Regions from separate parts of the Homo sapiens genome. Here region 2 is linked to region 1. Evidence: fine-mapped expression QTL. A gene starts in region 1. The other region holds a variant in brackets. All regions are shown on one strand. Distances are from middle to middle. Region 1 holds the start of SMIM30 (small integral membrane protein 30). Region 2 overlaps LOC107986837.

What was found.
Region 2: its variant is fine-mapped to the expression of SMIM30 in whole blood (TOPMed, PIP above 0.99). The same link has a PIP of 0.9 or more in monocytes.

Annotation. Positions count from the first base shown.
Region 1 is chr7:113,111,368-113,124,144 of GRCh38, reverse strand. It overlaps SMIM30 (small integral membrane protein 30), which reads left to right and starts at 5,591. Exons shown (of 3, transcript NM_001352688.2): 1 at 5,591-5,617; 2 at 5,984-6,077; 3 at 6,538-7,427. The coding sequence starts at 6,567. The coding sequence ends at 6,746. All of the region lies in intron 2 of LOC107986837, which reads right to left. RefSeq lists enhancers at 5,192-5,331, 5,226-5,820.
Region 2 is chr7:113,136,944-113,149,720 of GRCh38, reverse strand. It overlaps LOC107986837, which reads right to left. Exons shown (of 4, transcript XM_047421162.1): 3 at 3,946-4,058; 4 at 3,280-3,681. The coding sequence ends at 3,595. Among named protein-coding and RNA genes, the nearest start is that of SMIM30, 25 kb to the right of the region's middle. The variant C/T (reference allele first, on the strand shown) is at 7,220.

The DNA.
Region 1 (12,777 bases):
TGCCCCTATGTCACCACTTCCCAAATAATCAGCCTCCATAAAATGGCAAAGGCTCTAAGACCAAATGAACCTAAGAACTACCAGGAGAACTTATTTTAAAGTTTTGCATTTTAAAATAAATTCCCCATATAATTGGGATGCAAGTGAAACACAGAACACACTTTGAGAACACTCTTCCAGGACCAATTTTGGATAACTTGAATAAACTCTGTCACTCTTCCCTGGATCCTCTACTGTCTGTGTAGGTCCCTTTTAATGTCTGGTCACCAAAGATACGTACGGTATTCTATTAAGGAGTTACTGAAGCAGGGCAGATGAAAGGATTATGTCCCTTCCCTTATATAGCCACCACAAATACATTCACGAGTGTTGATAGGCATGCTCGCAAAAGCAGTGCTTCATTCTGGCTGTCAGATTGAGGTCAATTACTTATTTTGACTCTCCTGAGATACGAGAGCGTAAAATGCATTAAAATGAGTCCAAATCAAAATCAAATGAAACTATAGTGTTGTACCGGACTTTTTCCTCAACTGAACCAGTTGCAATCTTTTTAATATAACCTATTCCACCTTTAAGATAAAGAAATTATCTTTAAAGTAAAATGGAAAATCTGGCAACCTCCTTGAGTAAACTTATTCTTGCAGAAAGTAAGATTTTTGTCATTTTAAAAATTATAAAGATTTTTAATTCAAACAACATTACTTTAGAGTATTTACAGACAAGTAGTCTGTTGTCTTAATGGTCTCAAGGAATAGATTTATAAACAATCAAAATATTACAAGCAAGAGTAAAGAAACTTTACTATTGCCATCTCACTCACCGTTTCATAGATAAGTAAATCATTCCGTGACACAGAAACTGATGTTTTACCATAAAGTGTTCTACTTGGACCACCTATGTGATTTAGCAAAAGAAAGAAATTTAGAAACTAAAAGTGACTGATCACTTACAGTATGTCAACTGGAAATTCACAATAAATGTCTACATAAAAGGTTCAAGTACTCATTTAAGCTTCCAGAATCAATTTAAAAGTAACCACTTCCTAGATACTGCTAACCAATACATTCTAGCCTTATATACACTGCAACATGTCTAGATTGACTCAAAAAGGTATTATCAAATGAACAAAGTGAGATATCCAAAGTGTAAATTCAGTTTCTCAAATTGAGTGATTTTACTCAAAAAATGGCCAGACAGAAATTTCATAAGTCTTTCAATTCAAGGGAAATCAAGCTAAGACTGGTTGGGGCAAGATTCACTGTCCTAGGCTATTTGCATTTTCTATCCAGCATGTCTTTAATTTTATAAATTTCATGCTGTTTGTTTCCATGGTTACCAGCTCTTAATCATAATGAGCACCTGGTCTACACAGGGGAATTAATATTTCCCTGTGAAATGCACATACTGAATTGTTAGTAACCTCCCTACATTTTTGCAGGGACTAGTTTAAACTCTTGACCCCTAGCAAAGATTTTCTTTTTTTTTTTTTAACTTTTGAGCTTTGGGGGCACATGTGCAGGTTTGTTACATAGGTAAACACGTGTCATGGGGGTTTGTTGTACATATTCTTTCATCACCCAGGTATTAAGCTCAATACCCAATAGTTATCTTTTCTTCTTGCAAAGATTTTCAAAGGGTCTCTTTAACTTTCTTTTTGAATTTTGTATATTATATGGACTTCAGTTATTTCATGATAATTGAAATTTTCCAACATTTCACAATCTATGTTGACAGGGAACATCTATGCTCGTTAGTATGTGTGCTTTTGCGCCTGGGTCAGATATACTTCAATTTTTAAAAAAACACTTTTTTGTACATATTTATTAAATCTCAGTCAAAATCCACTGATAAATTAGGTGAATACTGGCACCCCCTCATTCACCACACTAGGGCCTAGAGGGAAGTACACAAACACCAGCAACCCCTCAAGTAGTCAACATGATTAGGCTTCCTAAGCGACATTAGAACACCTTATTAAAAAGAAAATTAAAATGGTTTTTGATCCTGTGGACATTTTCCACATAACAGTATGTGGACAATGATTAAAAGTATAAAGTTTGTCATATTTCCTGGATATATACCACTCACTAGTTATGTGACCTGGTGTAAATTACTTAACTATGCCTCAATTTCTTCATCAGAGAATAATAATAGTATCCAGTTCACAGGATTATTTTAAGGAGTAGAGGGGCTTATATTTATTAATGTGTGGAATAGTTACTGGTGCATATTAGTCACTATTTTAAGTGTTTGTTAAATATAAATGTCAATCAATCAATCTGACCCTATGCAGCATGAAACCATGTTTTCTAAGAAAATCTTTTTTTCCATAATAAATGTTTGTTCATCTCTCATGATGTAAGCTAATTCTGATTTTAAATTTCCTTGTGTAGCACTTAATAAATATTATTTGATCAGCTACTTCCATCTCTGAAAGGTCGTCTGTTGCCAATAATAGTGTCACTTACACTGACCACACTGAGCCACTTTACATGTCACCTCATTCAATCTGCATTAACAACCCTATGAAGATTGGTGATCCCCTTATTACAGATGAGAAAACTCAAGTTTCAGGAAGTTAGATAATTCGCACAGGTTTACAGAGTTAGAAAGTGGCAGAGGTAAATTTGGAATCAACCTCTGATGATCTCCAAACCCTGTCTTAATCAGTCCATTACCACGGATAAAGTGCTATATAGATAATGTCACAACTTTTCAAAACTAGAACTTTGTCATATCCAGTAATTTTTAACCTACTCCAAGAAGATCAGCAATATAAATAAAAGTGGAATCTGTCATGCCTATGAGTGGGGTTTCTCTACTTCCCCATCCTCCACAAGCTTCCGTGTGTGATTGATTCCCACAGACAAATGACGATCACCAGTGGGAGTAAGGACCACATACATAATGGGCTCTAGGTGGTGCCTGGAACTTTGCCCAAAATGACCTTTTGCACCTCTCCCATACACTTCTGTAAATGCTGGTACAAGAGGTACTTAGCCTCAGGAGACGTTTTCTGCAGTAGTTGAACAGCTCTGGAAAGTGTAGCTTCTCCCATCCTTTTGACCTAATGAGTAGTTAGTTCTAACATTCTCAGTGATTAGTCCTATTAATGATGGGAAATACTGACTAGGTCTGGGTTGGTCTTTTTTAATTGTGAAGCTCCAGTAAAATGTTTCGACTCACTTGGCTTGGCTCAATTGCTAATGAGGAAGTCTGGGTTTTATAAATTCCCTGACACACACCAGTCACTGCAAAATCCTGATATTGGCCTGTCCTGCATCCTCTGATGGATCCCAGAGGTGCCTTCCTTCAGGGCCTACCAATGACTCACTTCTAACAGAAAAATGAGCAGAAGCCACTTCCTTTTTTTTTTTTTTTTTTTTCCTGAAACCATTTCTGGGTAACAACTGATGGAAAATTTTGCTCTCCACTGCTCAGGTAAGTAACTAAAGTAAAGTGCTTTAAGTATCATTGGTGCCATTGATCTCTATTTCAGTAAAGGATGGTGTAGGTGCAGATTTGTTTGAATCGAAAGACTAAATTATGGATTCTATAACCCTAGACACTTAGTGTCAAAAGAACAACTACATAGAAGCCTGTAGAAACATTCATACAGCTTGGGAAAAATGGGAGTGTAGCATTGCTTCAGAAAATTGGTGGTTCACATTGCTACCAGAGATGTTCACAGGCAGAACTTGTAGTTGGCAGATGACGGACACAGAAGCAGCTTCTCATCTATCATCGCCTTTTTTAGAAGAGAGACCAAACATGTACAACATGGCAGTTATTATCCTGGTCAGCAATCTAGCCAAAATATCTAACCTGGTTTACAGCTAGGAAATAACAGTTCACTGAGATAGAGTGAAGGCATGTTAAAAATCACACAGTAGGAGCAGGTCAAAGCAGTGAAGGAGATTATCATATTCATGGTACTCCAGAAATTAATCCTTGCAACTACATCAGCTATTACTGGAACCCCGCCCCCGAGATCGACATTTCCCAATATAATATATATTTCACAAACTAATAAAAACCATCATAATTTAAAGAGAAAGTTTCTTGCCACTTACAGACTCTTTAAACTTAAAACCAAACCATTATCTTTAATGTTGACGTGCCTAGAAACAAGTCTGTAACAATACTAACTTTAAAGTAGTCTCTGCTGACTTCAGCTAACTAAAATAAACACATAAGGAAAAATAAACATGTAGGGAAAAACAAAATGTTCACAGTAGGATATGAGAGAATATTTTGGAAGCTATAAAAATATAACTCCTATTCCAAATATAATTGATTACAAAGGCACGAAAGTAGCTCAAAACAAAGGATGAAATGAACAAAACCTTGTTAAAATAATCAAGGTTAGAGAAACAATGCTGACGTTATTGTGCAGTTATTCTCAGATTTCCAATTTTCTAGTCACCTTGGTTTGGTTTATTTGGCACCTCTCGGTCTCTCATAAGATCTTGTTGGCATATTTATCTAGTCAAATCATTATTATTATTAGGCAACATTACTGAGCACCTGCTGGGTGCCGGTTAGGAGCCAAGAATATAAATCTTTGCTAGAGAGACTAGGAACGTGTAAGAAAAAGGGTAACCGACAACACAAGAATACATGCTAATTATTGGCATTGAACTGAACGTACCTGCATTATCTAACAGACTGAACCAGGGGACTTTCAGACCAGGCAGGTGGCTTCACACCCAACCCTCATCATTAATAATTTATAATGTAAGGATAGCAAATAAATTTTCAAATCAGTAAATATGAAAGAGTTCAGAAGATCAGATGACTAGAAAGGTTCAGTAAGGAGTTCACAATTAGCAGACAATTGAAAGAGCGCCTTTCAGAAAGGTTACGACTTACATATACAAATAACTAATTCTTGTTTTATGATTTAAAAGCAGTATTTTTACATCTTTTCACAAATATGTAGGGACATTTGGGGCTGAGGTTTCACAAAAACATAGGTGGGAAGGAATCACCGCAGTGCACTCCTGAATAGATTGTCACTTTAGGACCTGAATCCTGAGAGATCTTCTGCAACAGGGCTAAACCCATTTTTCCTAAACTTTATTTTGCACTACAAATGTTTTTTAACCTTTTACGATATGTCTTATTAACCGCGCTTTTTCCCCATTGACTAAAAAATTAATAAATGGCATATGTTTCATTAGGAAGATGGTGACAGAGATTTCCTGCTTCAGAAACGTTGGAAGCCACTGGTTTAAAAGCACCCGGAACAGAGGGCTGTACTTGGGTTCTCTCTCCCCGCTGTGTCATTTCAGTCGAAGAAAAAGACAAAATTACATGTGCGCCTTACAGACTCAACAGGGTAGAAAACACTTGCTATCATTTCTTTTATTTTGAAGTGAGCTTTTATATAAACACACGAAACCATCTATTTAATAGTAAAACGTTGGGCAGGGAAAGGAAGTCCCGCGCGTTCGCGACTCTTCGCCTCCGCTAGAGCGTGACCGTCACGCCCTCTGCTACTTATAGGGGGAACGCGCCGGGGCATCATAGGAGTCGGCGGCGGCAGGGATTGTGGGAAATGTAGTTTGGAGACTCCGCCCTCCTCGCCATTCCTGTAATGGCTGCTTCCTAGAAGGTAATGTACGAACTCGTCTCCAAAGGATACTTAGGTTGCACCAGTGTATTTGTAAAACAGGAGCAAATTTGGACCTTGCCGGGCCAAAGTACGAATTCTTTTTCAAATCTTAATATCAAGTCCTGAAATGAAATTATCTCTGTTCTGTTTCTTTTTACCTTTTCTTGTGTGGGTGAACTGACCAACTTTTAAGTCTAGTTCCCTGTTGGACAGACTTTTCTCAACTCATTACCTATCCCCCTACCGTCCATATGGCCTCCACGCTCTGCACTGACTCTAGCTGCCTCTTTAAAATAATAATAGTAATAATAATTAATTTTTAAATCCTTCTCTCCGCCCCCTCCCCACCCCCCATGCTAATAATAGGTCGTGTCACGTGGAACCTCTTAATCTCAGCATCCGGAGCTCCAGGAAGGGAAAATTTCAAGTCAGATAGAATTCTATATATACCATTTCTTTGGTAAGTCTTATTAATTCCCCACAACTTCGCAGAGTTATATGTTGTGTGACTTTTGCCAAATTTGTCTGCATTTCTTGGATGGGAGAGACCCTAAGAAAATGTACAATTTTTACCCACTAGGATATTTTAAGTTTCCAAGTTAGTGGCTCGTGCTTTTTTTCTGTTTGTTCTTAATTATGAACTCCTGTTCAATTTTTGTTTGGTTGATGCACGAGGTGTTGGCATTATCGTGGAAAATTCCTGGGTTTAGAGTGTTATCACGAGATAGGGAGATGAACCTCAAATTACTGTCTTTAACGTCCCTCTGTTTTTCCACCTATAAGATGAGGAGATGGATTGGAAATGATTCATAAAGTATCCAAAAGATTGGCTGGCCTGTTATTTGTCATGTGTTCATTTTGTCATTTGAAAAGGGAGGAATTTTTAATGGTTCCTTTTTGTTTCCATGTTTAATTTCTAGGAACCTTCAGCCCTCAAGATTCCAACATCATGACCTCAGTTTCAACACAGTTGTCCTTAGTCCTCATGTCACTGCTTTTGGTGCTGCCTGTTGTGGAAGCAGTAGAAGCCGGTGATGCAATCGCCCTTTTGTTAGGTGTGGTTCTCAGCATTACAGGCATTTGTGCCTGCTTGGGGGTATATGCACGAAAAAGAAATGGACAGATGTGACTTTGAAAGGCCTACTGAGTCAAACCTCACCCTGAAAACCTTTGCGCTTTAGAGGCTAAACCTGAGATTTGGTGTGTGAAAGGTTCCAAGAATCAGTAAATAAGGGAGTTTCACATTTTTCATTGTTTCCATGAAATGGCAACAAACATACATTTATAAATTGAAAAAAAAATGTTTTCTTTACAACAAATAATGCACAGAAAAATGCAGCCTATAATTTGCTAGTTAGGTAGTCAAAGAAGTAAGATGGCTGAAATTTACATAAGTAATATTTCATAATCTTAGAATTCTCTCAAAGCATGTGAAATAGGAAGAAGGAAGTTCTTGCCCAGAATCTTAGGAAATCACCACTGTTCGGTTATAATCACTGCCTCCTGAATCGTTGAGGAGTCTTTTAAATTAGATTTTTGTTTTGTTGTCTCCCAAGTTAATATTATATTTAGATATCAGAGAGTCAGGCAAAAAGGAAAACTTTTATCTCTAGGGAAAAAACATTTAGAAAAATGTATTCAGTGTATCTAATACTGAAATGCGGAAAAAAATTTAATGTTAAAAAAAAACTATAGACATTGACATGGAAAAGAGATTTAATGTTTTGAAAAAAAACTTTATATTAACTGAGTAACATCCTCCTGATGAGAAGTACTATATTAAATATAAACCCATTATGTTATAAGTTAATGTTTCGTGTCCATTTCTTATTTGGGGCTGTTTGTATCCATTGTGGATTTTTATATGAGCTAAGTGGAGAAGGGCAGGATGCCTTGTGTTAACTGATTGCGGTAGCTTGAAGAGACATAATGAGAACTGGGCAGCATTAAGGTCAGAGAAGCCCCTGATAGAAAATCTAGAAATATAGAAGGAAAATGAAATGGCTTAAACTGATTTGTACGCCAGCCAAACGAAATATCCTCTCTGGCCTAGCTACTTAAAGTGTCTTCAAGCCAGCAACATCACCTGGGGCTTGTTAGAAATGCAGAATCTCAGGCCCCACCCAGACCAATTGGATCAGGAACAGCATTCGTTTCCAAAGCCCAAGTTAATTTGTATGCACATTACAAATTTAAGAAGACTGCCAACTTGCTTGAGCCCAAGAATCATTCCAGGCACTTGATAAGACTTTTTGATTCCCTGGTCTTTCTCCTGGTTGTATAGCTGTGAGATGGGGCCTGGAACTCCATGTCTAACAAGGGTCCTCAGTGATTCATTTGATTCTCAAGTTGTAGCCAGCATAAAGTAGTCTAAGGAAATCAAACTTTAGGGTCACACTGGAGGTAAGTAGTGAAATTTTTTCCTAAAATGCATTTTCCAATCTGTAGCTCTCCAGATGACATTGGGAGCCTCATTTTTTATCCAAAAACAGGCACTAGCAACCTAAAGTCCTGTTTATGGTGTAATTCTAGAGTGAGCTGACTTGGCTTGCATGAAAGTTTTGGTTAAAGTGTACAAGGAGTGAAGAAGCATCACAGAATAAAGACATGGAAACTGAATGCACTTGTTTTTGTCACAGCTGTTTCGATTTTTTGCTAGAGGAAGCACTAACAGTCTTTATTCAAATTAATTGGCAGTTAAACATTTCATAATTAATATAGCTTGATTGTACCTGCATTTTTTTGTGTGTTTTAAAGAAGGAAAAAGGAATGATGCAAGTTATAGAACAATTGTCATCTCTTATACTCCAGCCCATTGGGTGCTGATGTAGAAAGGCTGCTGCGGCTTCCTTGCATGTCAACTTTTCCATTGGGATGGGAGAAATCAAACCTAAAGTACATTTTAAATCACAGTGCAGTAGTCACTTAGTCACCTCCAGGTACTGTTTTTAAAATGTTCAAAATAAGACTATAGGCAAACATTCTTTGGTCAACGTGTATTTCCAAAAGTGCCTAGAAAGAATTAGAAAACTGCCATTTCCCTATTTTCCCCTTAAAAGTAGAGAATTGTCTTGAGGTGGCATGCAGGAATTTTGATGGATATGATGGGGGAACACCTCCTCTAAAAATAGCCTCATTTCTCATCTATTTAGGTTGGATTATATGGCTTTGCCTGAAAAGAACAGAACCCTTATGGTGGCTCTTAACATTTTTAGGCCACCAGTTCCTTTGAGAATCTGATGAAAGCTATCATCTTTTTCTTTAGGAAAATTCCCATGCATGCTGACATTTTTAGATTAGTTTCAGAGCTGAAGCCCATCCAGGATCTTTCCAATTCTAAAATTCCTTGATTTTCTATGAGGGATAACACCTGCTGTGGAGCAGTTACAGCAAGAATGGCATTAGCAAATATTCTGATGCCCAGCACAATTTGTAGATATCTAGTAAATGCCTTGTGCATGTTAGCTCACTGAGTTGAGTTAAAAATAGTTGAGATCAAGTGAAGAATTTAAGGTCCTTGCAAATACTTATATTTCTGTTCTCTGTAGTTTTAATGTAACCAGCTTAGTTCTCTAATGCTAAAAATCAGTACATTTCCTGCATCATTTCTCTCTTAACTGCTTTCATAACTCTTCTTTGTCATTAATTTTTAGAAGTTTGTGATATATCTCGGCATGGATATATCTTTGGGTTTATCCTGTTTGGGGTTCACTCGGTATCTGAGACTTACAGTTTTATTCTTTTTTCCCAAATTCAGGAAATTTTCAGCCATTCTTTCTTTTTACAAAAATTTCGCTCCACTTTCATTCTCCTTTTCTTCTAGGACTCCAGGGACCCAATATTAGATATTTTTGTTATAGTCTGATGCATACCTAAGGCTCTATTTATTTTTTCAGTCCTTTTTTTCTCTTATTCAGATTGGGTAATTTCTAGTATTGTATGCTTAAGTTCACCGTTTCTGCTGTTGTATTTTTTGTTCAAAACTTTCCATTTTGTTCTTTGTGTCTTGTGTTTCTTTGTGGAGACCTGTTTTTTCATTTGTCTCAAGCATGTTTGTGATTGTCACTGAAGCACCTTTTCATGGCTGCTTAAATCCTTAATAATCCTAACATCTCTGTCACCTCGGTGTTTAGCATCTGTTGATTGTCTTCTCATTCAAGTTGAGATCTTCCCAGTTCTTAGTATGATGATGATTTTTCTATTGACATTTGGACATTCTGGGTATTATATTTAAAAGGCTGTGGCTCTTATTTAAATTTTGTATTTTAACATTCCTCTGACACCACTCCTTCGTAGAAAGGGAGGATGCCTCCTCCTTCCTGCCAGATGCAGGTGGAAGCCTCATGACTGCTCCTCCTATACCCTCCACTGACACTGGTGATAGGTTGCCTTGTTACCACCAGGTGGGAGTGGAGTCCAGGCTACCCACATGGTCTTCATGGGTACCAGCGTAGAAGAGGGAGGTTCTTACTATCAACTGGTGAGGATGAAAGTGCCAGCTCCCCACCCAGCCTTCTGTGATACCTCAGTGGGGAGCCTGGAACATCTACAGCCTGGTGAAAGTGGAGGTCTTGGCACTCCACTCAACCTTTGCTGATGGTGGAAGTGGGGCTACAATTCTAAAAGTTTTCTGTTTCACTAAGCTACACCTTTCCTATACCTTTAAATACTAGAGAGAATAGTCTTGTTTGGTTTCCCACCCCCCCACCCTTTTTTTTTTTCGGTCTAAGCCCGTTGGCCTTTCTGTGCTACCAACTTCTCCAGTTCTCAATCTGAAACAGGAAGAAAAAAAAAAAAAACCAGCTAACTCACCACTTTGTTGTTCCTTTGCTCTTGAGGTACCCAGCTGTTGTGCCTTCTTTCTGCCTTTCAGAATCCTATGTTTGTTTTATACATAATGTCCAGGGTTTTTAGCTATATTTAGTGGGAGGAAAAGGAAAAAAGATGTCTACTCCATCTTTCTAGAAGTATAAGTCTTGGTGCATATTTAAAGAGGGAATTTTCTGAGCTACTCCAGAGATGGAGAGATAAAACACCAGGAAAGTGATTACTTCAAGGTATTTTACTCACAGACTTTTGTCCCGTCATCTCCCACATCCACCTTCCCCTCTTCACCCATCCAGCATATTGTTTATTCCTACCTTAACCCAACAGTCTCAACTAGGGAGTGAGACTAACCATCAAGAAATGCAGGGACGTAGATGAAGTTTGAGAAAATGGGCTGTATTCATATTTTGTCTCAGCATTGAGACTGCAAGTGGGAGCTTCTTGAAAAACTGATGTGATACCAATTGTGCCAACTAGCCAGGTCCAGGAAATCTCAGAAGCTACACCTCACATGCACCTGTGTCCTGCTGGGCTTTCTAGCTCTGTACCAGCTTATCAAATGCCATTTCCAACCTTGGATATAGGAATGGTAATGCAGCTATATAGCCTGCAGCACATAATGAATGGAGGAGAATTTTCTGCATATGACCCATCTCCCAGCCAGCGACTCTCATAACAGTCTCTTCAGTGGTACTATAATAGAGGCTAAGGGTCCAAGCTGTGGAATTTAACAGACGTCTCTCCAAGAATTAAAATGTCATAATGGGCAAGTCACTTATTTTCTCTTAAATTGCTATCTCCTGTCTGTTAATTGGATGTAATAATAGTATTTCTCCACTCCACCTCCTAGGTAGATGAGAAATATCTAAGGTAGTGTATGTGGAAGGGTTGGCTTGCTGTATGTTATTATTTTTAGGAGTATTTAGAGATATTTCCTAAAGAGAAGGGGGAAGAAACTTTACAAGCATCAATTTTGAATTTTTAAAGAGGATATCTTAAAAGTTATATGAACAAATCCTATATCAAACTTTAATTTTAATTTTGACATTTTCCCAAGTCCTAACAGGCCCTTGAAGATGATACTCAGTCTTTGTTTTTTCTTATTATAGTCCTTCCCAACACACACAATTCTAGCTTACAAACTGATAAAGCTCAAAGACACCTGTGAAGAAAAGAAAATTCGACTACCCTAAAATTTTTTTAAATCTTCTGGTTTGTACCTCATGCTTTCGAAGGGGAAAAAAAGGAAAGAAAATAATTGATTATTTTTTAATGATTCTTAATACGTTAACCATGGGTTCCTTCCTAGGTAGCATAACAGAAGGTTAGCAGCAACTGCCCAGGTCATTTAAGGAGAGGCAAGGAATTTGGTTTTTCCTGTTCAGGAAAATAGCAGATCTGGTCCATATTCCACCAAGAAAAATACTTACAAATCTCATCTCATTAGAAGTCATGAAATTATAAACTACATATAATGTGTTTAATGTTTGTTTCCTATGGTGGGGAGTAGAGAGGAAGCCCTTATCTTGATTTACTAATCCCAGACATGATTTTCACTCATAGGTGAAAATGGGGCCAAATCAATAAATAAATTTGCAGAATAGCATGTTTATTTTTTTTCTAATTTTCAGTAACTTCATTTTTCTAAATACTTTCTATAACTGACTAATATACATCTAACATCTAAATGCAAAATGCAGAAGACCAGAAAAATATATGATTGCTGCAAAAAAAAGATAATGTCGTTTAATTTCTCATTGATTTATAAGTATCAGAGCTAAAGTACTCTTCTCACATATTTCCACTGGATCCATTTTATGTGGGTGATTAAAATTTTGAAAATATTAGTTGGCACTTCATAATATGAAATGAAATTATGAAATTTTATATACAAGAGGGTTAATTATTTTTAAAGGGCTAATCATGTAGCACTTTGTTAAACACAGGGATTATAAATACTGTATTTCTCAATATTAATCAAGATAATTATGCTCTGTTTAAATGTGCGTAAATCACTTAACAAAAGAATTTAGAAGCAGGCATGAGCACCAAGAGCAGAAACTATACCATTTTCTATTTCAGATTATTTGTCACAACAACCCTTTCATTCTGCCACAAAAATTACCAGGGCATTTCAATACCAACATGAAACAGTTTTATAGCCCCTGAGATGGCATGTGCTTAACTTTAACTTGTTTACTCAACAGTTTTTGAGAAATAACCAGTACTCTTTAGAAATAAAAATATTTATCAACTATCAGGCAAATGATCTTGAGCCAATAATTTAACCTCCACAACTTTTTCATCTGTAAAATTTTTTGTCAGTAATTTCT
Region 2 (12,777 bases), 26 kb before region 1:
GTGTAAAATTGGTGAGTGTGATTGATAAGCTAGATTGTCTTTAAAATAAATAATAATTTCACTCTAGAGTTCAGCTTAGGATTTCCTTTCTGACTTGTCAGAGAAAACACAAGCCACAGTTATGGTTAGAATAGACTAGGTTATGCTGCATTAACAAGCAATGCTAAAATCTCAGTGGCTCAAAAACAAAATCAAGGTTTATTTTCCACTCGTGCTACATGTCCATTGTGGATCAGCTGGGTCTGCTCTGCACTGTTTGCACTCAAGATCCTGGCTAATCAAGAAGTCACCATTTGGAACACTGTTAATCATTTTAGCAAAGGAAAAAGGAGAGTGTGGCAAATCACCCAGTGGCTCTAAAGGCTTCAACCTAGAAGATGTTGCCCACATTTGAATGACCAAAGTAAGTCTCATAGCCACTCCATGAAGGAAGGGAAGTGCAATCCCAAAATGCCCTGAAGAAAAAACCAGAAGGAGCTAGTAAATAGCATCAAAGATCACCACACCATCAGATGTAAATGTCTTCACTTTCCCACTACAGATCTATAAATTTTCCTCCCCAGCCATCAGCTCAGCCTTCCCTACTCCAACAATAGAATAGAAGTCCTTCCTGACTAAACTCCCTTTTCCTCCTCTGTTCCTATTATCTCAGGACCCACTTCTATGAATTATCTCCTCTTTCCCTCATCTTCAACTCCTGTTCTCTTGCACCTTCTCATCAGAATTCATATTTGTTTCTCCTATCTTAAAATGTAAAAACTCACCCTTAATTTTCTCATTTTCATTTCTTCCCAACTGACTCTGCTTTACTCCTCTCCTCTACAGACACATTAAAAAATATTTTTAAATTGTTGTGGGTATATAGTAGGTGTATATATTTATAAGGTATGTAAGATATTTTGATACAGGCATACAAGGGGTAATAATCACATCAGGGTAAATGCAGTATTCATCCCCTCAAGCATTTATCCTCTTTGTGTTAAAAAAAAAATCCAATTATACTCTTAAAATAACTACAACCACATATTTTAGAAGAGCTGTAGACATCCCCACAGGTATTTCTTCAACTCCCATTCATGCCTCAACTCACTGGGTCTGTTTCTACCTTCACCACTTTCATTAAAGTCATCAATAACCCCTTCCTTGTTAAATCCCATGTGTGCATTTTTGTTCTGTTGCTTAATCCTTGACAGGTTTGTCCACTCTCTCCTACTCCTGAAAATGATATCTTCACTTGGCTTCTGTAGTACTACTTTTTTTTACTTTCTTCTTAACTCCCAAGGGGCTCTGTTTCCACTCACTTTGAATGAAACTCATTCTCTACCTGTTCTTTAAATGTTGATGTTCTCAGGCTCATACTGTGGTCTCCCTTTTTTCACACCCTACCTTATTTTCACCCAACATGGGTGATCTCAACCATCCCTATAACTTCAGTTATCATCTACATGCTGATTACTCCCAAACCAGACTGCAAAGAGCTGACACAATTTCAGCCATCCTGCCTAGGACACTACTCTTTCAGTCTCTGCCTGTGCCCATGGAGTATTGGCACCTAATTTCTAGATATACCAGGCTTCATTTATGAGAAAACAGTCCTCTTTGAAGCTAAAATTGACAAGAAAAAATAAAATATACTATTTTGTCAGCACTTACCTAAATTGTATTAAGTAAACACTAATCTGCATGTTTATTTGTTTAATATCTCTCTTCCTTTGAGCTATGAGGAATGCGGTGGAGATTTTGTCTTATTTACCACTGTATCTCTAGAGTCTGACACAATGGGTTCTCAATAAATAACAGTTAAACATTGATGCAATTTCACTTGGCACCTCTCACCTGAAAGGATTCTCAAGCATCCTTTCTGAGGGGATGTGGTATACCTGATTATATGTAGGTGCATAGGAGTGCAGGACCTACCAAAAGACCTGTCTTGTTAAACAAGACCACATGTTGCTGTTCAACTCAGAGTAAATACAAGCCATGATTATTAATCTGAGTAGACGGGGTTGTGCTACATTAACAAGCAAACCTAAAATCTCAGTGCCTCAAAAATATCAGGTTTATTTTTTGCTCATGCTACATTTCTACTGATGTTCCCTACCAACAGAAGCTGTATGAGAAGTTTTTTGGACCGAATTGTGTCCTCCAAAAGTTATATGTTGAAGCCCTAACTCCCAATGAAACTGTATTTAGAGATGAAGCCTTTAAAGAGGTAATTAAGGATAAATAAGGTCATCAGGTAGGGCCCTAATCCAAGAGGACTGGTTTCCTTAAAAGAAAAGGAAGGGACACAGGGATGCTGGCACACAGAGAAAAGGCTGTGTGAGGACATAGCAAGAAGGCAGCCATCTGCAGACCAAGGAGAGAAGCCTCACTAGAAACCAAACCTGCAGGTACCTTGAACTTGGATGACATCCAGCCTCCAGAACTGTGAGAAAATAAATTTTTCTTGATTGAGCCACCCAGTCACAATATTTTGTTATGGCAGTCCTGGTAAACTAATATAAGAAGTAAAAATGAAGTCACTGATGCCAATAATCCTATTCATCTGGGACGCTGAGCCTGTCCTGTGAAATTTCAAGGACCAGTCAGAGGATTGGTCCAATTTTCATCCACTGCCAATTGGCAAGAATGTGCTGAAGGGCATGGCACATGATCTCACTCTCCAATGAGACTCAAAGTCATTCCAAACAGTCATTCTTTCTATTAAGACAACTCTTCTTCGTAGAGTATTGAACTCTACCTGAGTGGGCAATTCACTAGAAGGCAATTCACCCAGCAGCAGGACACAGCAGATCTTTAGGAAGAAGGTAGCCCTGGTGGATCCAGATAGTCCTCTCCTTAAAAAGAGTTCTGAAATACTGCATTTCCTCAGTAATACAAGTCACAGATGCATTTGGTCTTTGACAGCAGCCCATTTCATCCCTCTCCTAGTCTATCTTCTCCTTACTGGGCTTCCCCATGCTTCCTCCAACTCTATAGGCTTTGCACGTAGACACACTCCTGGAATGTAAACTGAGGAAATGTTCTTATCTGTCTCACTGACCTCTTCCAGCTCTGGATAAATGAGTTATTTTTTAATACCAGACTTAGCAAATCACAACTCTGATTCAGGATGCAAAAAAAAAATGAATTCTGTCATTTAAAAACCAGTAAGTTATCAAAAGTCCCATATATTCTATCACTGTATTCATAAAAAAATATGACAACTTTGCATGTGTTTATACGTTACACAAGTCAGAAATATGATTTTAATTATGCCACAAAACAAAACAACACTGTTGATACAAGGTCTTTAATAAGGTTGGTTACATTGAACAACAAGAAACAAATGCTCTAACAGATTATTTTTAAACCATGTGGTATAATGGCAATGAGTTTATTATCATTTCTAATGACAAAATTAAATATGCAATTATGATTCCCATCCCTCAGTTAGATAGAAAAGGAGTCCCAATCTAAATTCTATGTGATGCCCAGAAATAAAGAATCTGAACAACCGCAGTTATCATGATGACTCTTTGGAGTTAGCTCCCATCTGTCTCTGACGAAGTCTCCAGTTAACCCAGAAGGCGTTATTGCCCTGAGACAGGCTCAGGAAACTCCTAAACCAAAGAAGCTACAGTTTTTGATTGAACAGAAACTCTGAGAATGGATTACCTGGGGAAGTGCCAAGCTGCCCTGAAAAAATACAAAATTTATCATCAAGCTATTGTTGGAACATCTCTACCCTTTGGGAAATCATCCTAAAATTGCTTCCAATCCCAGTGGCTGCTGTCTATCTCAGGCCTTCTACTTCCTAATTGCATTCCCATTTTGATCCCTTATGACTAGATCATTGAGTATCCCTATCTCCATCCTATTTCTTAGCCCTTTTCTGAACTTTCTGTTCCCAAGAGGTTGTCCCATGTGTCTTCTTGGTTCAGGTATTGTCTGACCACTCACAGTGAATTGACTTCTCTCCACAGTCTGCTGCTGCCATCTTTCCACAGCCTCCTCGCCACAGTGTCTTAGGAAGCAGTCATTCATCTTCATGGACCATCCCCACCTCATCTCTTCTGTGTAGCAGCAGAAACAAAAAGAAAGAGGATGTTTTGCTATGATTGAGTTTAGTTTGGTTCTTTGGGGTTCTATCCTTGGCCCTCTGCTCAATGAAGGAGTAGTTTCAGATATTTTCCCCTCATCCCAGACAGAACAACAGTTTCTGATTCACTTCATCCTCCCACTGTCTCCGCCACAACCACACAATACCTTTCAACAGTGCCTTCTGCCAAAAAGCTTGGCCACTTCTGCCCTGAGTCCTACAGGTAAAATTAGCATAAGATTCATGTTTTCTTTTGAACTTTGCTTGACTTATTTTTCTAAAGGTTTTCTAAACTCTCTTGCACTTAAACCCATGTTGTAATGCTGTTAAGTCATTAAAGCAAAGTAAAACAAAGAAAACAGCTTCAGGGTACTGCTTTTTAAAATCTTAAAGGATGAAGTCAAAACAAGAATTTCCAGAGTGGCTCTTTGGTGAGGAGGATCTGATGTCTCAAAACATATATACAGTCACTCCCTACCTCACAGAGAGGCATCCCATAATAGCTCTTCCTTGCTGTGTCTTTCCCAGCAGTTGCCTCCCCTGCAATGCTGCCTGCTGCCTTGCTTCTGTTTGACCTTTGGGGAGGTCTCTGCCCTTTTTCTCAGATGCACCTACTTCAGGTTGCCATCTCACAATGACTGAGGTATTTGCTGTCACTCATTCACCCCATGCATCCAGGAAAGTGATTACAATGCAGTTCTCTCTTTGAATAAATAATGTAGATCTGCTGATTTCTGAATTTACTCTGTGTGGAGGTCAGTTCCAGAAACACTCGTTGCTCTCTCTCCAAAGCTTCTTTTCTCAGATATGTGTAAATGATTACTGTTTATTATCTCTCTTAGTGAAGGAAAGAAAGAAAATAATGAAGAAACACATGTATTGATCACAGATCTGAAGCCAAGCAGTGTGTTACGTGTTTGCACATGCATTTTTATTTTTGCAACAGCTGAGTCTCTGATTTGAACACAGTATGATTCCAAAATCCAGATTCTTCCCAATACATCCCACTGCCATGCGCCACACAGAGCAGATGTCCTTTTAAGAAATATGGGAAGAATAAATATGGGATGAGTGGCTGTTGTGCTAAAAAGAATTGTCTGTGACTTCTGTTCCAGTCTCTCACTGACTTTGCCTCACCTAGTCTCTTGTTCATTTGTTTTTTACCTAAATAGTGCAACCAGAGGGAGCTTCCAGGGACAATGTCTGAAATTTCAGCCTTGTACCCCTCTACCTTTTCAAATAAAAGATTTGTAGTATGCAAGACTTTTCATTTAAAGTAAAATTGCTACATAGATGCCTATGCATAGTTGTGATAACAAATAGGAACACCTAGTAGATGCATTAACACAATATGTATTTGGTTTACTAGTGAAAGCATGAACCTCAGTAACTGGGCATTCAGTGGCTTCATTTTTGTAAGAGAGAAGAGAATGAGGAGAAGGAGGAAGTGAAAACTCAAGGCACTAACAAGGGATGGCCATCTTTAGGAGGGCAGACAAGGAAGCACAACCCAGTTAGTAAATCAAGGGTGGAGTTAGCACACTCAAGGAAGGAGGAGGTAGAAAGAGAAACAAAAGGGTACAAACCCAATCTGGGCCTAAGGGACAACCCCACCTAAACTGATTAGGGGAGAAGAGCTAGAAGGAACGATGAGAAACCAGCAAAAAGGAAGAGAAATTTTCCACAATGGCATCTGAGCTTACCTCTATTACAGAATACATACCATTTTCTGTTGAAAATCTGTTTACTTGCCTGCACCCTCCTTTAGATCATCAGTTTTTAGAGGACAAGGACCTTGTTTATTTAATTTGTGCAGGACCAGAGCCTTGTGCACTGTCTGGCATGTAGCAGAGGCTTGATTCATGTTTGATGGATGAATGAATCAAATCATTTTCCTTTCTTTTCTATTTCCTATGCATAACATCTTGGCTATGAGGAACTGGATGTACTTCATATATGATGGCACTTCAGCTGTCTGAACTGTCATCATATATGAAGTACACTCAGTTTTGAGGAATACCCAGGGTTCTTAGAGGTGCCAGGGGTCCTTGAAATATATAAACTGTGTCATTTACAGAAATGCAGCATACACATCCAACTCAGAACTGTAGCAAACACATCTAACGTCTAACAAATATTGGGTTTTTTAAAGTTTTTTTCAAGTTATTATTTGTAATAGGCATTTTATTTATTTTCAGGGGTCTTTATTTATACTTCTTTACATAATTTATTTTTATATAAATCATTTACATCAGACTCTATTCAGGCTTCTATTACATTATACTTCGATATATGTAAGACAGGTTTAGATGAAATATAGCTAATGGTTCCAAAATAGTTCCTGTAGACATGCTATATATTTTAAACTTAATTTAATTTCCTTCTTACGTACCAGAGAAAAAAAAAGTATGAGTTTTTTTTCCAAGCATCTCTCTTTCCTCATTATCAAAGTATTCATACTGAATTATTTTTAAAAGGCAGCATTTAGTATTCAATCAAATAATGAGAATGTGTTCCTTCCCAGTGGTTTAATAATAATTCTTGCATCACCAACCCTGAATATTCATGTTATGGAAATGTGCCCTACTTCTATAGATTTCATCACTGTCAGCTGGTGCCACAGCAGAACACAGGGACAGTCAGTCTTAATACAGTCAAGATTTCAGCAATTACCAAAGTGTCTTCTCTGACTTACCATCAATAATTCAACTTTTGAGGAATATAATGCTGAGACACAGGAGGCTGACCAACAAATATTCTGCTATTCTTTGGAAAACAGCCACCTAGCTGCATAAAATTGTGATGTCATTTGACTGAAGTCCTGCTTCGGCTCTATCTGCATGACATAAAGACAACTGATCTATTCAGGGAAGAAGTAAATCCATCAAGCCAGTTTTGTTTTGTTTTTTCGTCTTTGGTAAATCAAGTTATAGAATATATTTTTTTCTCTTCATTTTGCTGTTAGAACATAGCTTGTCAGTGGTCTGATATTCATCATCCTCATTTCTCAAAACATGTGTTAATCATGCTTTAACCTCGATTTTCTGTTAGTGGTGTGACCTTGGTCTAGTCAGTCCCTCTAAGAGTCAGTTTCCTCATCTGCAAAATGAGGAAGTGGGATTAGGTGGGGGTCAA[C/T]GAACTTTTTCTGCTCAAGGAGAGATAATAAGTATTTTAGGCTTTGCATGACATATAATCTCTGTTCCAACTACTCAATTCTGCCACTTTAATGTAAAAGCACCCACAGATAATACGTAAATGAATGAGCATTTCTGTGTTCTAATAAAATATTATTTTACAAAAACAGGCAGGTGGCAAGACAGATTTGGCTGCATGCAGTAGCTTGCTGACCTCACTCAAGTCTTTTTCAAGTCTGTGATTCTATATAATAGATACATAAAAAGCACCTAAAGATCAAAAGGCAGAATAAACCTACCAAGTCCCTCAATCATCTAAAATGTAAGGGGCATAGAAATTTCCAATTACAGAATAATTCCTCTAAAAAAGTCAACTAGGCCTAAGTGAACCCAGCTGGTTAACAGATTAACAAAGTTCATTCAACTCTTGCCAGTCAGTGTCTATGTTATTAGTGGCCCTAGCATACACAGATGCCATAAAATTAGGTCCAAGTCTCCAAGCTGTTTGTGTATGAGAAGAGAATATGCACATCAGCTTGCAAGAGTAATAGGATTTCACTCCAGGTTTTTGTTGCCTTGGCATTGAAGAAACTAATCTGCATTAAAAACAACATATTAGGTCACATTGTAGTTTCAAGCTTGCATCTCTGGGTAAAGCACCTATTTTATTTAGTAGCTCAGATGGTAAAAACCCTGAAAGGAAAGGTCATGTATTAATCCTTTTAGATGGTCTGTGAATGTCTACAGTTTCATTCTATTCTGCTACTATGAACTGCATGCACCCAAACACACATGCCATAGTCAGAGAATGCTAACCTGTGGAGACTGAGTAGACAACTGGTGCCGAAAGATGATTCTGTTATATTCAGAACAAGTTTAGACTATTTATGGGGTATAACAATTGCCCAAGAAACATATCCACAGTGACAAAGAATACCAGGATTAAAAAAAAACAAAATGAATGACAGTCTGTTTGGTTTATAGCAGGGCTTCTCAACCTCAGAACCATTGGCATTTGGGCTGGATAATTTTTTGATGTGGAGGACTTCTATGCACTGTAGAATATTTAGCAGCGTCATCGGCCTCTACATACCTAAGTTGTCGGGGTCCCCAACCATTTTGGCACCAAGGATCAGTTTTGTGGAAGACAATTTTTCCAAGGACAGGGGTGGGGGGTGGTTTCAGAATGAAACTGTTTCATCTCAGATGAGACATTAGTTAGATTCTCATAAGGAGCATGCAACCTAGATCCCTCACATGCACAGTTCACAATAGGGTACATAATCAGTCGCTGCTGATCTGCAGGAGGTGGAGTTCAGGCAGTAGTGCTCACTCTCCAGTCGCTTACCTCCTGCTGTATGGCCCAGTTCCTAACAGGCCATAGACCAGTACCAGTCCACGGCCTGGGAGTTGGGGACCCTTGCACTAGATGAAGTAACAGTAACTCCCATTCCCCCTTCCCCTGTCATGACAAACGAAAATGTCTCCAGGCATTGCCAGATGTCCTGGGTTGAGGGAAGGGGAGGGCAAAATTACAGCTAGTTGACAACGTCTAAAGTATAGAAAGTTTAGATATTTAATTGGTCACAAATCATCATCCATACCTCAGAAGTCAAATACTACTCCACACCAAACCTGATATTTACAAATGTGTTATAATGACTTTCCAGGTCCCTTCCAACTAATTCCAACTAATCACAAAACAACAATAAGAAGAAAAGTGGAGCGGGTATTGTCTGGGGAAGAATATTGCTGTCTAAGTCCTTTGTCCTAAACTGTTTCTAACTCTTGTTTAATAGCAATGTTCTGATTTCTAAATTATACACATAGGAGAACCAGACAAGACTCACTATGTCCAACTTCACTCCTAAATTATTGTTCATTATTGCTTGCCTCAGTTACTAGTGAAAAGATCACAGAGCCTTAGGCCATAGCTCAATGTCCTAAAACTCAGTCAGCCTATGTGAACTTCAGCTGTTGAGTTCCTGATCTCAAACTGTTGTTCCAGGACATTGGTCTCTTCATCTACCTTACCTAAACCTCTGCCTGCCTTTCCCAGTTTTCTGAGGGAGTAATGTCTGTACTCCAGACCTACTGCTGGGTCCCTACTACCTGCTATACACTTTCCAGTAAACCATATTCTACTCATTGAGACTTCATTGGGTCATTTCCTTCCTGCTGATATTTTTCCCCATCTGCTCACATATCTGTGTTCCAATTATCCCTGTTCTGTGGGGGTCTCATTGTTGGGTTCTGGGCATAAAATCAATTGCCTACTTATTCATTTTAAAGAAATAGTAATCATAGAAGAAAAAGGAGAGAAGGAACTGTGTGGTTACTTCAAAGGCATCCCATCTTGAAAAGCTTCCTAGTATAACCTGACAACCAGAACTCTATTATTAAAAGAAAAATCATCACAGGATATGCTCTTATGCTATGTTACTATCATATAAGGCTTTTCAACATTCTGAGTCATGCAGAAATTTCTACTGTTCTCTGATATTTTAGACAGAGAGAGCAAAACCAGAAAGATGTCAATCAGGTGATATGATCCATGGAATTGTTCTTCTATGCAAGTTAAAAAAAAAAGTAGACACAATAACAAGTTGAAACTGAACATGAGATTAATTTTAAATCTTACACAAAATCATGTATAACTTCAGCTGGGGAAAATAATGTTAAATCATGTTGAATTACAAATATAGGTATGTATATTCTTATACTCTTCTTTCAGTATCCCAAGGAAAGTTTGTCTATGCATAAAGGTGGCCAGGAAACGTTTATTTAAACACAAAGATAGTTTTTATTTCATCTCTGAGGTCAGGTGGAGAAGAAATTCTGTTTGTTTGACTTATGCTGCATATAATGAGCACCAGTGAAAAATACCTGAATTATAAACACACCAAACTGTGCAGTCTTAACCATGAGACATGCAGGAACTTCAAACACTGGCAGAGAGAAGAGCATGGGCCAGCATCCTGGGTGGGATTCAGGGAATTAGGGTTGGGGCAGACACAGAGGTAGCTCAACCAGCTGAAAGTACAGAGCAGGAGAAGTTAGCTGCTGTACAAATCCCAATGGGAAAGAGGCCTTCCCCAGTGCTCAGAGTGGGGTTACTTCCATAAAGACCTATAGAGTAGAGCTCAGCAGCAGGCAGAAACCACAGTAATGTTATGGTTCAAGGAGGGTCCATCTGATTGGAAGCACATCTCAAGCCAACAACTCAAAGGGCATAGATAGTGAAAGGGACAAGAAGTGTGGGGTTGAGAAGTTCTGTTGAATAGAATGGCTGTCAGGCCTCTGTTGAACATACTGGGTTTCAGTTCAAGGCTTGAGTCCCAGATGGCAACGTAAGTACAAATCAGGAAGAAGGCCAGATATCCAAGAAGTCAGTTTCCAGAATCCATTCACTGGAGAGGATAAGATTCTAATATTCCTAAGCCTTGCTCATGCATTCATGCAATCTTTTGTTCAACAAATGCATACTAAACACCTACCAAGCACTGCTAGACACTGTTCTTGGCTCTGCAGAGTCGATGGGGAAAAATAAACATAGCCCTGGTTCTTATAAAGAGCTTTGCTGGAATTGCTTTGAGGCTTAATTAGCACTGAATATATAGATTACAAAACATCACATCAGGGCTAATAGACACTACCAGCGCTAGCAAGATCAAATGGCCTGTGCCCTTGAAAAATTCTGCTCCATCCCAAAGGTAGCCAGTTGGGTAGCAAGAAAAGAATATAGCGGATGTGCATTCTGCCCACACCCACTATGAGGAACTTAGTTCTACCACCTTAAAAGCATTGCTAAATAATAAATGGAGGCCATGATGATGATGATGAGCAGTAGTAATAGTTATTTAATTGTTTTGGGATCCAGCCAAGAGCCAGAAATCATACAGGTTAAACAGAAAGAAATTAATATAAAGAATTGTTAATTTTGGCCGGGTGCAGTGGCTCACGCCTGTAATCCCAACACTTTCGGAGGCCGAGGCGGGCAGATCACGAGGTCAGGAGACGGAGACCATCCTGGACAACATGGTGAAACCCCGCCTCTACTAAAAATACAAAAAATTAGCTGGGCGTGATGGCATGTGCTTGTAATCCCAGTTCTTCGGGAGGCTGAAGCAGGAGAATCCCTTGAACCCACGAGGTGGAGCTTGCAGTAAGCCAAGATCGTGCCACTGCACTCCAGCCTGGCGACAGAGTGAGAATCTGTCTCAAAATAAAATAAAATAAAATAAAATAAAATAAAATAAAATAAAGAATTGTTAATTTTATAAAAGTTGTTAATTAAGTACTGAAATGGCAAAAAGAGAACTCTAAGGTATCATAGAGGTAGCAACCATTCCTAGAATTCGAGGAACAAAATGAAGATATTAGAATTATTAACAGTTAGAAGCCTGGAGCACAGGCCTCACAGACTCCTGAGGAGAATCTGATGGTGCTGAGTCCCTGAGCTTAGCGGGAGGAGGCATCCCATGGTTCTGGGTCCCAGATCTCTGAAGAAGGGGAGCCAGCGACTGATGCTGACTCTGTGAGTGTCAGGGAAACCACAAACTGGACTCCTCTGCTGCTATTGGAACAAACTGCTGCTGCAAGACTGAAGAGGCATTGCTGGGTGATGCTCATGGGAAAAGAAAGCCAGCAGAAAGCAAATAGGAAGAAAAACAAAAACAACAGCAAAAAAGAAAGAACATGTTCCATCTACCTCCTCCTGCTTACAATTTCCTGTAGTATCCCCAACTGACAGGGTTTAACCAATCAAAAAAGCAGAAACATGGTTTGCAGATGCCCACAGCCCATGTATCAAAAAGCAAAATGTAGACAGTTGGGTTTGAAGCTGAGAGATGTTAGTTTAATAACCAACCCAGTAATCAAAGGCAAATTCTTTACCTTCCTGAGACATAGTTTATAAAATAAGGACAATAATGCCTAACATAAAAAGTCATTTTAAGAATTAGACAAAATGTGCATAAAGCACTTCACATAGTGCTTGACAAATAAAATGCATTATTTCACAACAGTTAATCATTTCCACTCCTGCCTTATCATTCCAAGTACACCTGCTATCCCAGTACCTTTCTTAAACAACCACTTCGTAGAACTCCACATGTGGCCTAATCTATTGCCAGGATGTATCTCAGTAGGAAAAAGCTATTTGTAAGGCCTTAGCCAACACGGAGTTCTTCCAGGTTGGAGATGATATATATATCTTGTATTTTAACTTCCTTCCCTTCCTGTAATCCTGAAAATATGGCCAAAAATTTTCACCCAGATTCTCCTTTGCCCTTGCCACTATCAACCCAAGAGGCCAGCTCTTCCGGTCCATGAAGACACATTTAAGTTCCTTCTCTCTTGCCCATGAAAATTTCTAGCAAGATTTAAAAGTTGATCCAACATCCCTCACCCTAAAGAACAGTCTTTGATACCTTGTGGCCTGGGAGGATCACAGGCCCAAAATGTGAACATAGGAACCCACACCATTTTTCTGATGTTCTCAATCTGGCAGCCATTTCTGCTCAGCATCGTTTGAGACAGCAGAGACCTTAGTTCTAG